2 separate regions of the Homo sapiens genome follow, and region 2 is linked to region 1. The links come from fine-mapping of genetic effects on plasma protein levels. A gene starts in region 1. The other region holds a variant in brackets. All regions are shown on one strand. Distances are between the middles of the regions. Region 1 holds the start of GXYLT1 (glucoside xylosyltransferase 1). Region 2 overlaps GXYLT1 (glucoside xylosyltransferase 1).

What was found. PIP is the posterior inclusion probability: the model's chance that the variant is causal. Sun 2018 read protein levels with aptamers (SomaScan).
Region 2: its variant is fine-mapped to the plasma level of the GXYLT1 protein (Sun 2018, PIP 0.95).

The regions. Positions count from the first base shown.
Region 1 is chr12:42,141,112-42,149,450 of GRCh38, forward strand. It overlaps GXYLT1 (glucoside xylosyltransferase 1), which reads right to left and starts at 3,763. Exons shown (of 8, transcript NM_173601.2): 1 at 3,315-3,763. The coding sequence starts at 3,535. RefSeq lists silencers at 3,151-3,380, 3,461-3,960 and an enhancer at 4,121-4,190.
Region 2 is chr12:42,121,998-42,130,336 of GRCh38, forward strand. It overlaps GXYLT1 (glucoside xylosyltransferase 1), which reads right to left. Exons shown (of 8, transcript NM_173601.2): 2 at 7,762-7,854. Among named protein-coding and RNA genes, the nearest start is that of GXYLT1, 19 kb to the right of the region's middle. The variant A/G (reference allele first, on the strand shown) is at 4,031.

The DNA.
Region 1 (8,339 bases):
GCAAGTGACACAGAGTCAACAAATCAGAGTTCCCCATCCCAAGTAACACTGACTGGTCCACAAACGGGCATGCAACCCAGGCAAGTCCAATGACAGCCTTTTCCTAGGATTTTGTATTTGAGATTAGAGAATAAAACCTGCAAGAACAGAAAAACCCCATGAACAAAGTTTTGTCTTTACTGGAAAAGACTCCCCAGTCCTTAAGGTCCTTTGAGCTGCCCTGCTATCTGCAGTTTTTCCTTCATTTCAAAAACTGTATAAGCCTATAAATATGTTTTGCTTGAGATAGTTTTACTGAATTTTCATCAAAGACAACTAAGAATTCTATTACAAATTAAGTAAGGTAATCTAATGTACAGCCTGATGACTATAGTTAACAAAGTGTACAGTATACCTAAAATGTGCTAAGACAGTAGATCTTTAGTGCTTTCACCACAAAAAAAAAAACCCTATGTGAAGTGATGATATTAACTAGCTTAACTGTGATCATTTCTCAATGTATATGTATGTCAAACTATCAAGTTCTATGCCTTAAACATATAGTTTCTATTTATCAATTATACCCTACTAAAGCTAAAAAAATTTAAGTATTATCTACATTTTACAGGTGAGGAAATTAAAACACAGGCATGTGACACAATTTAGGCAAAGTCTCACAGCAACCAGAGCCAGAATACTGAGAACACGGGTTTATCTGACTACAAGACCCATGTATTTTCTGATTATTAAAATCATGGCTTCAAACAGAATACACTAACGGATAAGAGATTCCACTGAAAAACTGTTCCTTTCATTTTAAAGTTCTTACTTCAAGGACTCCAAGTCTTTTGTCGTCATGAAATTCTATACCATGAATAGTTTTTATAAGATCTGACCAATGGAACTTACTGGGTACAAACCTAGATCCCGTGTTTAAAATAAAAAGAGAGAAATAGTTATAATCTTTCAAGTAAGATGTTATCAAAAAAGGCAAAAATGCAATAATACCTAAGTACTACTGAAAAGAGGAAGCTGCTGGCTTGCCCCATAGCCCCATTGCCCACTGAGTCCACTATCTAAACTAGACCCTTATCTTTCTTTACAGAAAGAGCTCTTGTATAACACTCCAAGGATACAGTTTCTAATCCTCCTCCAACACTGATTTGCTTTGGATCTTGGCCAAATGATTTATACATGAAGAGGTTAGGGATTTCTATACCGTATCTCATGGTGGCCAAAAAAGTTAATTTTTTTTTTTTTTTTTGAGACAGGATCTTGCTCTGTCACCCAGGTTGGATTACACTGGTGCAATCATAGCTCACTGTAGCCTTGAACTCCTGGGCTCAAGTGATCCTCCCACCTTAGCCTCCCAAAGTGCTGGGATTACAGGTGTGAAACACCACATTCAGTTAATTTTTTTTTAATTTTTTTATTTTTTGTAAAGATGGGTTGTTGACGAGGCTGGTGTCAAACTCCTGGCCTCCAGCAATCAATCATCCCCACTCAGCCTCCCCAAATTCTGGGATTACAGGCGTGAGCTACCGAGCGTTGCCAAAAGTTGATTTAATTCTATGACATTTCTATAAAGATGTTATAAATGACGATATACAAAATAGAGTCCTGAGGTCTTAGTAATTTGCGTGATCTTAATCTAACCATAGAGTAAAACTTCACAATCCAACTTTTCCACGTTGTTCCCCTGCCCAAATGGTTTCTTATGCGCGCAAATGTGGTGACATGCTGTTCTTCATCACATTTTTACAAAGAGAGATAAATACACCTATAGTTCTAACTTAGATGTACGCCTCATTTAAAATAAAGAGTAATGCTACTCAAAGGACCTAAAAAAGTACAGTATTTCGGTTGACTCAATCCTGACACATAAAACTTAACGTTTCAGTAATGATTATATTGGATGTTTATTAAAACTGAGGCTATTTTCGAAAATTTCAAATAATTTTATTAAAATTAGCTGGTCAAGCAAACAAAATTTGTAAATTTCTGTCACAAAATAAAATATCTAAGACCAAGGCACTAAAAATGTGATGTTAACATCAGTCTAATTTCATTCAATATTTAATTAAAATGTTGCTTCCTTACAATTCTACCCCATATAAAAATAATTCCTTTTCCATAATTGCAAATGCTTCACAATAACATACTAGGCCATAAACAGTTTAGCTTCAACCTGTCATTTTTCACGAGCTCATTCAAGTCTTCAGTGACTGCTTTCTCCCAGGACAGACAACTGAGGGTCCTGATGTAGGAATTACCCTGACTGTAATCAAATCTCAGGGTAAAAACATGACAAGTCCGCTTTCCACGCTGCTCCTCTGCCCAAACTTTCCCCTTTCATTCTGGGAATGACCATCGACTCTCAAAATGATGTTAAACAACAGCCCACAACTGATCTATACTCCCTCTTCCGACAAACCCTATACTTCTCTATATCAAAGCAGCATTTGCCAAGTCTTGGTAGGGAGCACTTCAGGTCATTCCCAGAGAGATGCCCATACATAAGGTGGAAGTGTCCATGTTGCAAGGCAGTGCAAACGCTCAGATTTCAAGCATTCATAATGCGTTGACAGAAACATTTTTTTTCTATTTAAATCTCATGTTGATTCCCACTCTGGCAGTGATTACGTCCTAAGTCATTACGTCGCTTTTTAAATACCAATTTGTCAAGAAAGGTAACTCCATCCCATCCAACAACAGACTTGAGCACGCCAAGTATCGCTCATTTTTCTTAATTTGCTCTAAGTTTCTTAATAAACTGAGTGTTTCCAAAAGAAAATTTCACAACCCGCACAAATGCCATTTCCAAATTTAACTAACCATGGCTAATACTTAGAAGTGTAAGCGTTAACACAGGAAAATCAGCATGAGGGACAAAATACACACACATATACACTCACACACACACACACAATCCTTAAACACTGAACTAGGGCGCCAGCCTCATGTTTAAATATCTCAACTTGAACTCCACTGAAACAAGAGGAAATTCTCACTAGCCAGGCAGCAGTAAGGCTTTTGTGGACACCTCTTATTTTCAAAGAACCCTCTTTTTAAAAAGTTGAAAATTAATTTCTAACTGCTTTAAAGGGCGCATGACTGGGTCAAAAGATAAACACAGAAAGTGTAGGACACTCTCAGGCGGGAGCAGCGCAGGTTTAGCCCCGGCCGGAGGGGAAGGAGGGAAATGAGTGAGGGGTCAGAGACAGGAGGAAAGACGCGGGAGACGCGGCACCCACCGGCGAGCAGCCCGGGCTAGGCCGAGCCCGCGCCCAGCGCCCCGCGCCCGCCGCGTCCCCCACACCGGGAACTGCCCGTACCTGTCCGACACGCCGGGATGCGCTGCGGGGCCCGCGACGCCGGCGCCTCTCACGGCGCCGCGTCCGCCGCCCGCGAGCCAGGAAGCCACCGCGGCCTGCGGCTTCCCGCCACCGCCGCCCGTTCCTTCTTCCAGGGACACGGCGAGCTGGCTGAAAGCGTAAAGGAGCGAGCAGAAGCCGCAGGCCACACACAGCACCACGACGCGCAGGTAGCGCCGCATCGCCCCGGCCGCGCTCCTCCTTCGCCGCCGCCGCCGCGCCCGCCCCGACGAACTGGAGCGGAGGGAGGGGCACCGCGCAGCCGCGGGCGCAACAAGTTCCTCACCCGCAGCCGCCGCCGCCGCCTTGCGCCCGCTCCCTTCCTTCCCTCCCCGCCCACCACCTAGGCGAGCGCAGTCGCGGCTCCGGAGCCGAAGGACTACCCGCCCGGAAGCCTGGACACCGCCTCTGCCGCCGCGCGCTCAAGGGTCAGCGGCAGCGACGCAACCCCGCCCCTCCCCCGGGCGGGAGGGCTGGACGCGCCGGCGCAGTTCGCGTGGGAGGGACGCAGGGCTGGCGCGCAGAGGGTGGTGTGAGTGCGCGGAACGCGGCGCGCCTGAGGGCTATAGCTAGCGCAGGCCGACGCGCAGGTGAATGGGAGCCCTGTGGGTCTCGACCGCCGAGAGAGGGGGAGCGAAAGCCTCAGGGCTCTGGAGGCAGTTGACCTAAATTCTAATTATGGTCCTTCCACATGGTAGTTTGTGACATTGGGCAACCTAAATTCTCTGAGCATGTTTCTTCGTCCCTAAAATGGAGCTACTATCCTCATCATGGGGTGGTTGTAAAGATTAAACTGTTTAACGCTCGAAAACCGCCTAACACTTAGAAGACACTTGACTAGGCCAGTTTCCTCTCCATCCTCCCCCAGCCTCTAAGTTTCTGTGATACTATAATGTGCACGAGCCATTTTCACCCCGATAAGCTCATTGCTTCGTGTGTTTGGTATGCGGACCTTACCTCTTGCCTCCCAGCAGACAGTGAGTTCCTGTAAGGCAGGGCTCTTCCCTTTGACCTTTTTGACCTCCCTCACAACTCATTATTTTCATGTGCAAAACAATTAGTATTCTCTCCACAGAGCTTCTTTCTTCCCCAGTTCTTCTCCCTCTTCTTCTGTGTTTCCACTACGTTCATTCATTGACCATTTATAAAGCATCACTTGTGCCAAGCTCTGTGTGAGTACCTAGGGGTATAAAGAGGCCTAAGTGGAGCGTGGGTGGGACAGCGGATACTTGTAAATAAGCGCAACGCAGTGATAACAGACTTAAGATCCAGGCCTGTAAGGGTGTGGGCATACACACAAAGGAACAATCAGTTCTATCTGTGAGTATGGTCAAGAGAGACTTCATAGCAAAGGTGGCGCTAGAGTCTTGAGTCGGGTAAGGGAAGTAATTCCAGGCTGAAGGATCAATAAACAGGCTCTTGTGTAGGGAACTGTTGAGAAGTTTGATACCACCAGCTAAGTGAATGCAAGAGAGGGTATGATGAGCGATAAGCGCGTAGAAGGGGCCAGATATTTGAGTGCTTTGTTTAGCACACCAAGGAGTTTGAATTTAATCTGCAAGACATTAGTGAACCATTGAAGGGTTTTTAAATAGGGAAGTAACATGATCACAATTGCATTTTAGAGAGCAGATTCTGGCTGTAGTGTGGAGGCTGAAACAGAGAGAGGAGAGATTGGAGGCAGAAAGCAGCACCAGTGCCAAAAAGTGAGGGAAGGGATACTTAAAAATACACACACACACGAACACACATTCATGGGGAAAAATCATGCGTTTAACTGCTGAAATTGCATCTGGGGCGTTGAAAAGTTTGGCCATGAGATACAAGGTGGGGAAATGCTGCGCAAAATAGTAGCAGTCTCCATTTGGATCCTTGGCTCCCTATACCAAAAAAGTAGTGGTTCTGTGACCATGATAAAGTCACTAAACAAATTTAAGGTTCAACTTCCTCCCCTTCTTGCTTTACCTGATAAAAAATGAACATTAGCATGCTATCAAGATGTGTAAAGAGAATGAGAACATACATTTATGCATTCAATAAACATTTATTGAACATATTCTACATGCCAGACAAGGGGCTCTGATGCAGAGTATTCAGAAATAAAAGGAGTGTACTGCTCTCAAAGGGAAAACAGGCAAATAGAAACCACAAGTATACTAAATTAATACTTCCACTACACCTTACACTTCTTAGAGAAATGAAGATAAACTTAACGAAGTATCCAGAATGATAGGAAAAGCATTGATAAGAATGAAAATACCTTTTGAGAGAAAGCTGAAAGATATGGTACCAAGAAACTAGAGTAAGAGCTAGTACTCAAAAAATGTTTAATTTAAAAGATACTAACTATAACTCTTCTCTATTTCAACAAAGAAACTAAACGTAGTAATAATTAAGAATAACTCCTTGACCCACAGATGGTTAAAATAATGGAATGGCAAAAAGAGAAGGCAAGCAGTTTTCATTTCTGCAACAATTTTATGAAAAGAGCAAATCAGGAAAAATAGCCACTCATTTATTGACGTCAGGGTACTGGACCATATCATCCTTTTAGGTTCCTTCTAATCCTGTAATTTTCTGTTGAAAAATTATATAAACCATTCCAAAAATAGAAATGATTTTTCTATTACTCACACATCATCTTAACTGGCTATCTTGGAGGAGCTGTGTGCATGCTGGCATCCCCTCTAATTATTAACCGGATTTACACGTTGCATTTTGATATTCCTAAAATTAAGTTAATGAAAGCGCTTTAACATATTTGATGTCACAACAGTTAGGTGTTTCTTCCATGTACTGCGTGAAGGTATGTATTCCTAAATCTATTTTTTTCTCTCTATACCAGTCTCTTAATTCTCTAATGATAGACTGATATCCAAATTTTTAATCCATGTTGACCTTCATTCATCGTATCAAATAGGTAAATTTAGGTGGAGAAAAAGTAATTTAAAATTATCAATATTTGTTGTTTAGGAGATAGAGATCTCCATGATCTGGAAAATTCTCTGATTCAGAATTAAGCCACATCTCAATAATTTTATATTTAAAAGATTAATCTTGATTTTTCGTATAGCTCTTAGTACATCCTGGATATATAATAGGCGTTCAATTAATGGGCGTTTTCTTTTTTTTTTTTTTTTTTTGAGATGGAGTTTTGCTCTGTCACCAGGCTGGAGTGCAGTGGCACAATCTCAGCTCACTGCAACCTCCGCTTCTCGGGTTCAAGTGATTCTCCTGCCTCAGCCTCCTGAGTAGCTGGGACTACAAGCGCGTGCGTGCCACCAGGCCCGGCTAATTTTTTGTATTTTTAGTAGAGACGGGGTTTCACCATGTTGGCCAGAATAGTCTCTATCTCCTGACCTCGTGATCCACCCACCTCGGCCTCCCCGAAGTGCTGGGATTACAGCGTGAGCCACTGCGCCCGGCTCCCATTTTCATTTTTTTAAAATGTCTTCTCTAAATCAGTCTAGAGCAGATTTGGGGGCCTGCTCAGCATTTTCTTTACACTTCTACCTTAAGTACTTGATTCCTTAAAAAAAAAGACATGGAGAAAGTTAAATTCTACACCTTTTCAGAGTAAAATTCAAAAACTCTTTTTGCAGGAAAAAAAAAAAAACCTTTTTGCATGACTTCCATTTTATAAAGGTCTATGCATAATGGAATTTAATCCTTGGCTGGGCACGGTGGCTCACACCTGTAATCCCCGCACTTTGGGAGGTGGAGCTGGGAGGATTGCTTGAGGCCAGGAGATCAAAAACAGCTTGGGTAATATAATGAGACCCCTCTTTCTACAAAAAAAAAAAAAAAAAAAAAAAAAAAAAAGTTTAATTTAATCTTTATAGCATTCCTATGAAGTAGGAGATGTTATTCTATTCTAAAAAAAAAACAAAAAAAACAAAAAAAACAAAAAAAAACGAGCCTGATAGAGATGTGACCACAGATAGCAAGAAAAATTTAAAAATAAAAACAATCCCCCCCCAAAAAAAGCAAACAGCCTGAAATTCAGAAATGTTCATTTACCACATGGTTAATAATAAGATCCAAAATTCAGATAGAAATCCTCTAAGATTTCTATTTCTTGTTCTTTTCCATTACGCCATGCTATCTCACTAGGAACAAATAAGCACTAAATGGAGTGGTACAAATTCAAATTGAAAGCAAAAAGGGAACCAATGTTATATGAAAATCTTTCAGACTGATCTTAGAGTCTAAAACAACATTTACAATCAGTGAAATGCAAGTCAGATTAGTAGCAGAGCACAAAGAATCAGAAACTCAGGCTAAAAGTAAAATTCATTCTCTCCGCTAGTGGGCTTCTAGTATATTTCCCCATTTTCCACAGTCCAATTCCTAGAGACTTTGTTGGACTGGAGGAAAAGTTGGAAAATAATGTTTAGTTTGCACAAAAATCTCATTTTATGTGTTCATTCAGACCAGTAACTGTAGGGAAAGAGTCAGAGGAAGGATGAAAGAGTAAAGTGATGCTCTTCATTCTTAAAAACACGTTGCTACAGGCCACAAGAGTAGAAAAAGAAGTAGTGAAAGATTAAAAAATAAATAAATAATTTAAACTGAAAAAAGAAAAGCGGTGGAAAACTAATTAATGAGGATGCCTTAACCTCCTATATGATACCAGAATTTCGCTGACATTTCCATCTACAAGGTAGGGAAAGTGTACAGTGGGCTAGGTGGGAAAGAGAACGAGGAATATCCTCTGGATGTCCCTCTATTTCTCCCTGGTTCAAACTTCAAGAACCCTGCATACCGATTAGTAAAACAGAATATATTATTTTTAAAAAATAGTAACGGCCAGGCGCAATGGCTCATGCCTGTAATCGCAGCACTTTGGGAGGCCAAGGCAGGAAGGTCACTTGAGCTCAGGAATTCAAGATGAGCCTGAGCAACATGGTGAAAACCCGTCTCTATAAAAAATGCAAGAATTAGCTGGGCATGGTGCTGTGCATCTGTGGTCCCAGCTACTCGGGA
Region 2 (8,339 bases), 19 kb before region 1:
GTTACAGGGAAGCAGTCATTCAAATAATGTTGGCCCCAATTGAATGGCGGAATCTTGCCAGGGTCTACAAAAATCTTTCTTTCGGTCACAATATGAACAAAAGAAAAGTCCATCTGGATTTAAAGAAATGTAATAGAAGAGGAGATTTTAAAGTCAAGCCTATTTTTCTACAGATATACAATTAGAAGAAATTCGTCAGATGATTCAAAGATAATATCTGAGGGTTCCCATGGTTAAAGCTGGCATAACCTGAGTATGAAAAGTATGACAGTAATGAATGATAGTGTATTAAATTTACAAAGTGAACCCTGGCCGGGCACGGTGGCTCACACCTGTAATCCCAGCACTTTGGGAGGCCGAGGTGGGTGAATCATTTGAGGTCAAGAGTTTGAGACCAGGCTGGCCAACATGGCGAAACCCCGTCTCTATTAAAAATACAATAATTAGCCGGGCATGGTGGCACACACCTGTAGTCCCAGCTATTCGAGAGGCTGAGACAGGAGAATTGCATGAACCCAGGAGGCAGAGGTTACAGTGAGCTGGAATCATGCCATTGCACTACAGTCTGGGCAACAGAGCGAGACTCTTTCAAAAAAATAAATAAAAAGTGAACACATCGTCAAAAAATGATATTAAATAAAGGGGTAAGAAGAGGGAACTCTTCTTTTTTTAAAGATGAATACCAACCAATAAATGCAGAAGAAATGAGAGAATTATAAAATTCACTATTTTGCAATCACCATTGTAACAGATAATCTGGACAAAAATAATCAGTGGATGCTAAAACTACGTACTAACAAAATATTTCCCCCATATATTATAAAGGAGATAAAAGCACTGTTACAGTGTAGAAATGCAAGAACATCACCTTAACCATGTGATCAAACTTAATAATATTAAAACTTAAGGCATCAAATGTCTCCTGATAGCATGCCCAAAGAAGAACACAATATCCCATGCAGTAATCCTGCCAAAAATCCTGAATCTAATAATAAGTAGACAGTCGGCAAATCAAAATTAAGGGACATTCTGCAAAACAAAAACAAAAATATCACAAAAGATACCAATAACAGCACCCCTTTTCACCCCAAAAAAGGCTGGGGAACAGTTCTAGAATAAAGGAGACTAACTCAACCTGAGTTGAATGCAATGTATGGTCCTTGACTGGGTCCTGAATGGGGAGGAAAAGATACAAAGGACATTAACAGGAAAATAAGAAAATAGGAATAGGAATATATATTCTATAAAGTGTTAAATAACTTAAAGTGACAATTATGGCTGTATTAAAGTATGTCCCTGTTCTTAGGAGATACATGCTGAATCTATGTATTTAGGGGTGTGTCCTAATGCCTGCTGTCTCTCAAATGGTTTGGCAGAAAAAGAAAAGTGGTAAAATGTTAATAATAAATATCTAGGTAAAAAATGTATGGTATGCTTACTGTACTATTCTTGTAACCTTTGCATATTTGAAATTTATCAAAGTAAAAATTTAGGAGGTAGGGGTTTATCATAAAAAAAGAATGCTTTACATAACAAATTTAGATGCAAATACTGTTAATAAACTTCTAAGTCTTAAGAATTGACTTCTTATTTTAAGTAAATTTCTGCTATAAAGGAATCATAATAACTTTTTTGATTTTGTTTTATTTCACAGTATGATCTCCAGTGTGTTCTTATAGCCTATTATTAAATTAGTATTCCCTATTTAAAGAGATACATAATTAGACTACAAACTACCATTGAAGTATATAAAGTCAAATTAAACAATTAAATTTCAAATAACCATCTACTAAAACTAAAAAAGAACTGCCATGAAGCTATCTTTAAAAACTTGCAGTTGAACAAAATGGAAAGCTTTTTTGCTTAACCTGTTATGCTTAAAAAGAAAAACAACACCTTTTTCTCTTACTATTAAAAGAGTTGTTCCCAGCAACACATAATGGACTAAAAGAAAGAAAAAAAAAAAAGAGTTGTGCTAAATTATCATACCAGGCAAAATTACTTTCATGAGTTACATATAAAACACTTTCAAAACAAAATACTTAAAAAAAAAAGCTAGGATTTTTATATAAAGCATTAAAAAAATCTAAAAATCCAACATGAAATATAAGTATTAACTTCTAAAATATAATTTTAAATAACCAGTGAAAATATATCTCTTAAAACTGGTATGAACTACTCAAAATAATACAGCTAATATTAAATTCACCTATGACCACAGAATTCACAAATCTAAAATCAATTCCCACCATAAAGAAGATTCAATATTTTAAAGAACTGATTTTTTTAAAAACTAAAGTCATAGAAAAATTAGTACATTAAAACAAAATATTTCTGATATTTTGATAATTCTAAAATTTAGAGTTTGTATAATGAAAGTAAAATAAAAAAACAAATTAGAAACTTATTTGCAATCAATGGCAAAACCGAACATATTATTCTAAGAGTTCATAAAATAAACATTAAAAATTCAATAGATAACTATCAATATCAAATAGATGATATACAGAACAAAAGAAAAAAGCTAACTAAATGTGGAAATACATTCAACAAATAATCAACAAAAAGCTATCATTTTAATAAGTGATAAAATTATAATTCCCAATAATGCTAAGGTTATGATGACCCCAAGTACACTCACACAATGCTGGTGCAGGCTTACAGCCATATAATTTTTAAAACACAATTTAGTGATATAATTCATTCTTTTTAAAAAATATTTGAACTCCTTTCATATGGGCACTGGGGTAGGCAAGAAAGCCACAATCTTCACCTTATACAATTTGTAGCCTGTTGTGAAAAGACTGATTTTTAAAAGAATAAGAAAGCATGGTAATTGTTTTAATAGAAAAAAACTGAGATTGCTAAAGAGGCTCACAACGCAAACATCTAACCTGGTATTGGGGAAAGCTTCCCAGACAAATGATCCTGTTAATCATTTGTTTCTCACTGGTTGCCAAACACCTTGCTAGGCATGAGACTTAAATGATAACACCATATGGTATCAGCCTGCAGAGTTAACGGTCTAGAAGTGGATGAAGATTCACAGTCACAACAAATGCGGTAAATACAATAACCAAGAGGAGACAGAGAAGGGAGATGAAGTGAGCAGTGAGAGGAGACTATAATTGTTTGGGAAATGATGAGTACAACGGTTAAGGGAGAAGGAAGGAAGCAAGCAGCCAGGAGCAACAGTGTGAAAGGAGACAAGAAGAGTTAATGTAGACTGACATGTGGAGAAAGTCCGTTGTAAACATGATACAAAACACAGATGAAGGAAAGTCTGAGGAGCTAGAGCATGAGTTCAGGTTTGAACATGAGTCTCTGAGGCATTTGAATCAGAAAGGTAAAAATGACCAATATGCAACTAGAAATACAGGTCTGGCTCTCAGAAAAGAACTCTGAATTGGAGCTATCAGTTAAACAAATTATCCTGTGACTATTCAGGGAATGGGGAGAGAAAAGAGCAGAGTCCTAAGAAATGCAGATCATTTAGAAAGCAGCGTTAGAGGAGTCCAGGAGGAGAGAGATCAAAGAGCTGAGTAACTGGTCTGGTCTCAAAAGCCAGAGGCTAACAGAGCTGACAGAAAAAGGAAGTAGTAAACAGTGTCAAATGGGTAAGAGAAATAAAATTAAGCCCCAGAACAATAATTCAGAGGTGGGGTGATGACAGTAAGAGTCAGGTGGCAGACAGCTGAGGTGTGAAGTTCTTTTTATTAAAAGAAGTAAAACCAAGGCTGAGCACAGTAGCTCATGCCTGTAATCCCAGCACTTTGGGAAGCCAAGGCAGCAGGATCACTTGAGCTCAGTTGTTCATGACCAGCCTGGGCAACATAGCGAGACAGCGAGACCTTGTCTTCACTAATATTAAAAAAAAAAATTATTTGGCTATGGTGGCATGCACCTGTAGTCCCAGCTACTTAGAGGACTCAGGCAGGAGGATCACTTGAGCCCAGGAGGTCCAGGCAGCAGTGAGCCCTGGTGGTGCTACTGCACGCCAGCCTGGGCGACAAAGTGAGACTATCTCAAA[A/G]AAACAAACAAACCAAACAAAACCCAGAAGCAAAACCAGTAGGAACTTTTTTTTTTTTTTTTTTGAGACAGAGTCTCACTCTGTCACTCAGGCTGGAGTGCAGCGGTGTGGTATTGGTTCACTGCAACCTCTCCCTCCCGGGTTCAAGCGATTCTCGTGCCTCAGTCTCCCAAGTAGCTTGAACTAAAGTTGCGCGCCACCATGCCTGGCTAATTTTTGTATTTTTAGTTGAGACGGGGTTTCACCATGTTGGCCAGGCTGGCTCTCGAACTCCTGACCTCAGGCGATCGGCACGCCTTGGCCTCCTAAAGTGCTGGGATTACAGGCGTGAGCCACACCCCTCCAGCCAGTAGGGAGGTACTCAAAAGAAGCTTGCTGATGAAGGGAAAGAGAGGATTGAAAACAAACTGTTGCAGGGATTTTTGATTTTGTTTTAAAGACATAAAGCCAGGCACAGTGGCTCATGTCTATAATTCCAGCACTTTGAGAGGCAATGGAATAGTGTGTTGCCATTGACATGAGAAATATGAAGACCATACTACACTGAAAAGTATTAAAATTTTAAGCTCAGGATTCAAGATTAGGCCGGGGGCGGTGGCTCATGCCTGTAATTCCAGTATTTTGGGAGGCCGAGGCGGCCAGATCACCTGAGCTCAGGAGTTTGAGAACAGCCTGAGCAACATGGTGAAACCCCCTCTCTACAAAAACAGCTGGGCGCAGTGGCAGATGCCTGTAGTCCCAGCTCAGGAGACTGAGGCAGGAGAATCGCTTGAGCCCAGGAGGCAGCGGTTGCAGTGAGCCAAGATCATGCCACTGCACTCCAGCCTGGGAGACAGTGAAACCCTGTCTCAAGAAAAAAAAAAAAAAAAAAATTCAAGATTAGTCTACACCAGAATCACAACTATGTAAAAGCATATGATGATATGAATGATGAAAACACTTGTAATAGGAGTTGAGGCCATTTTAGTTTTTATATTATGTTCACTGTATAATAAATTAATTGGGAGAATATGATCACCCAAATAATATTTGATCAAAGTTATACAAATAATTCAAGTTGGGAAAGTAAGGTACCCAACTAAGGGCCCCCTGGTGCCAGGCAGAATGTGACATCAAAAGTGGTAGTAAAGGGGAATTCCAAAGAAGCTTTACCAGTATTAAAGTAGATACTGAGATGGAGGGCAAGAATGATTTGGCAGTTGTATGGCATTTGGGCTTGTATGCATATTTGAAATAGGGTGATTAAATGTGAGGGAATCGTTAGTTCTAAATAAGAAACTAAGTTTGAGAAATTTTTACATAATTATATGACACAAAATGTTTGCTTTTTTTAAATGTAATAGCATGATATAATGGATGCAATATTACGGGTAGAAAGTATAACAGAGGAAAGGCATATAACTTCTGAAGTCTCAAATTTAGGTTACAGGCACAAGGCTTACAACATTATGTATCCATCCACATATGATTTATTCCACGGAATACTTGGGAGCATTAGGAAAATGAGTTAGAGGAGCCAAAACAAAAGGAATGGTAAGCAGAGAGTCCAGGATTCCGACTAGGTAAATTTCCCTGGGACACTCCTGCAGTCAGTAAGGAGGAAAGATTATTATTACTCACGCTGTAATTTACAAAAGGGTCTGGGTTGTATAAATCAGAGTATGCTGAACTTTTCAAGTTTACCCAGCTTCAAGCTAGTGGAATTATGTGGCAAGGCAAAGTGGTTCTTGTCAATACTATATTCATTTGCAAATATTCGTAAGAATGAAAACATACAAAACTTCAATTATCCAAAAGTATAACCAAACTGAAAGGTTAGATTATCTTTAAAAGTTAATTTTTAAAAGCTGGAATATTACTTGGCTCATATTAAAATTTCAATCACCCAATCTCTTCCACAGCAACAGGATATAACTAAACTATCTGATTTGAACCTATTCCCCACCAGTTCTTCATGGGATGCATACTGTATTGAGAATGCAAGAATTTACAAATATGTACAATTAATAGATACTTACAATGCAGTTCTTACAGAGAGGAGAATGGTGGTTACCAGGCACTGGAGGTGAAGGGGTGGGAGAGAGTATGTGATGGAAAGATGTTGACCAAAGAATACAATACAAACTTCCAGTCAGAAGGAATAAGTTCTCAAGATCTACTGCACAGCAAGGTGTCTACAGATAATTATGTTTATTTCAAAACTGCGAAGAGAATAGGTTTTAAATGTGCCCATTACAAAAAAAAGATAAATATGTAAGATGATAAACATGTTAATGAGCTTGATATAATCAGTCCACAATATATACAGACACCAAAACATCGCTTTATGCCCCATAAATACATAGAATTATTGTCAATTAAAAATAAATTTTTTAATTAAAAGTTTTTAAAAATGAAGTTCTTCCTATCTCAAACACTTCACCTCCTGTCCTTGAAACTAGCTAATTTCCAGATCATCATCTGGTCACTCCCTCCAAGTCTTCCCTGATGCTTTAAGATGACTCATCATAGCAACAACTTGTCACACTCTATTGTAATTTCAGGTTTACTAGTGTGAAACTCCCATCAGAACGTAAGCTCCAAAAGGATGGAGCCACAATTAACCTGACCCAAGAGTCCAGTGCTTACCACCTAGCACAGCGTGTGGCAAATATAATGAGTAGAATTAATATTTATTTTATTTGTTTTTTTGAGACAGGGTCTTGCTCTGGGCTGAAGAGCAGTGGCGTCATCACAGCTCACTGCAACCTCAACCTCCACGGCTCAAGCAATCCTCCCACCCAAGCCAGCGCATGCCACCATGCCTGGGTAATTTAAAAAAAAAATTTGTAGAGACAGGGTCTTGCTTTTGTTGCCCAGGCTGGTCTTGAACTCCCGGGCTCAAGCAATACTCCCGCCTCAGCCTCCCAAAATGCTGAGATTACAGGCGTGAGCCACCATACCCAACCTAGACTATTTAAATGAATCATAAAGACGCAGTAAATAGATACTCTTCTAAGGAATTTTACTCTTGGGAAGAGCATTTCAAACCTTTGCCCCACTCTCCTCTGCCACTGTATCAGGGAGATAGTCTGAGAGTCACTGCCTTATCGTATTCTTATCAATACCTGTTTCTTTCATTCTAGATTAGAGCAGGAAGGGACCTAAGAGGTCAGAGTACCCAATACCTTCATTATCCAGAGAAGTGAATAAAGCCGAACTAGTCAGTAACTTAAAAGGTCAATAAACATTAAAGGAAGAAGTAGCCAGGAGCTGCTCCTCCATCTGCTCCTCCATTAAATACTTATCTTTATCCTCCTATTCCCAGTATTCAATCTCTCTACTAATAACGAATATAATCCTTCTCCAGTTGTCCCCATCCACTATAGTACACAAGCTTTTAGATAAATGCCATATTTTATATATATAGATATATCTGTAAACGTCAGTAGAAGCCTATTTTTATCCTAGTTTATCACTTTATCAACTGTTACCAAAAGTTAGATCATAAATTCTCTTAAGAACAGTGGTTTGTCTTAATAACATCTAAGAAAATTTAAAGCATTTATACACAGTATGTACTAAAAAATAGCAATAACAACTACAAAATGGGAAAAATAGAAAACCCAATAAGAAAATAAATTATTTGTATAATATCATAAGAAACATTCTTACATCCTATTACAAAGGTTTTATTATCAACTATCTAACCTTATCTACACTGATCTACCAATTAAATATTAAGTGCCTACCTAAAAGCCGCTTCCCAAAAGCAGTTCATTCCACAAACATCAGAGGGCAGCATCCAATAGGGATTCCAGTAACACAGAGAGAAATCTTTACACCTAACAGAGTAAGACAGAAATAAGAGTCCTGTGTGAGTATTTTGGTTTGGAACTAACAAGGAATTTACTCAGTAACACGATAACTTACTGTTCTATTTTAAAGCAAATAAAATTATAAATCCAAATTGCTATGATAAAGATTTTGGAAAACTGATTTCTCCCTTACTTAGGGCACCATTATTTTAAATAGAACTTTAAAACCCTGAAGGTAGACTATACTATAGATTGGGAAACAGTGTTTCCGTCGGAGAGTCTCCTGATAAAATCCCCTCCTCAGATAACACAGACAAATATGTCTTCTAAAATTTTCTTCACAGGCTACACATATACCCCTAGAACAAAATCCCTTTGGGACAAACAAAATATTTGCTTATCCTCAAACATAATAAAAATGCCACCAATACTGGCAGAAAGGGAAAAGAAGATCTTTAAATGCTTTTAAATTAATCCTCAATCCAAACTACTTGTATGGTGTTTTAAACTGA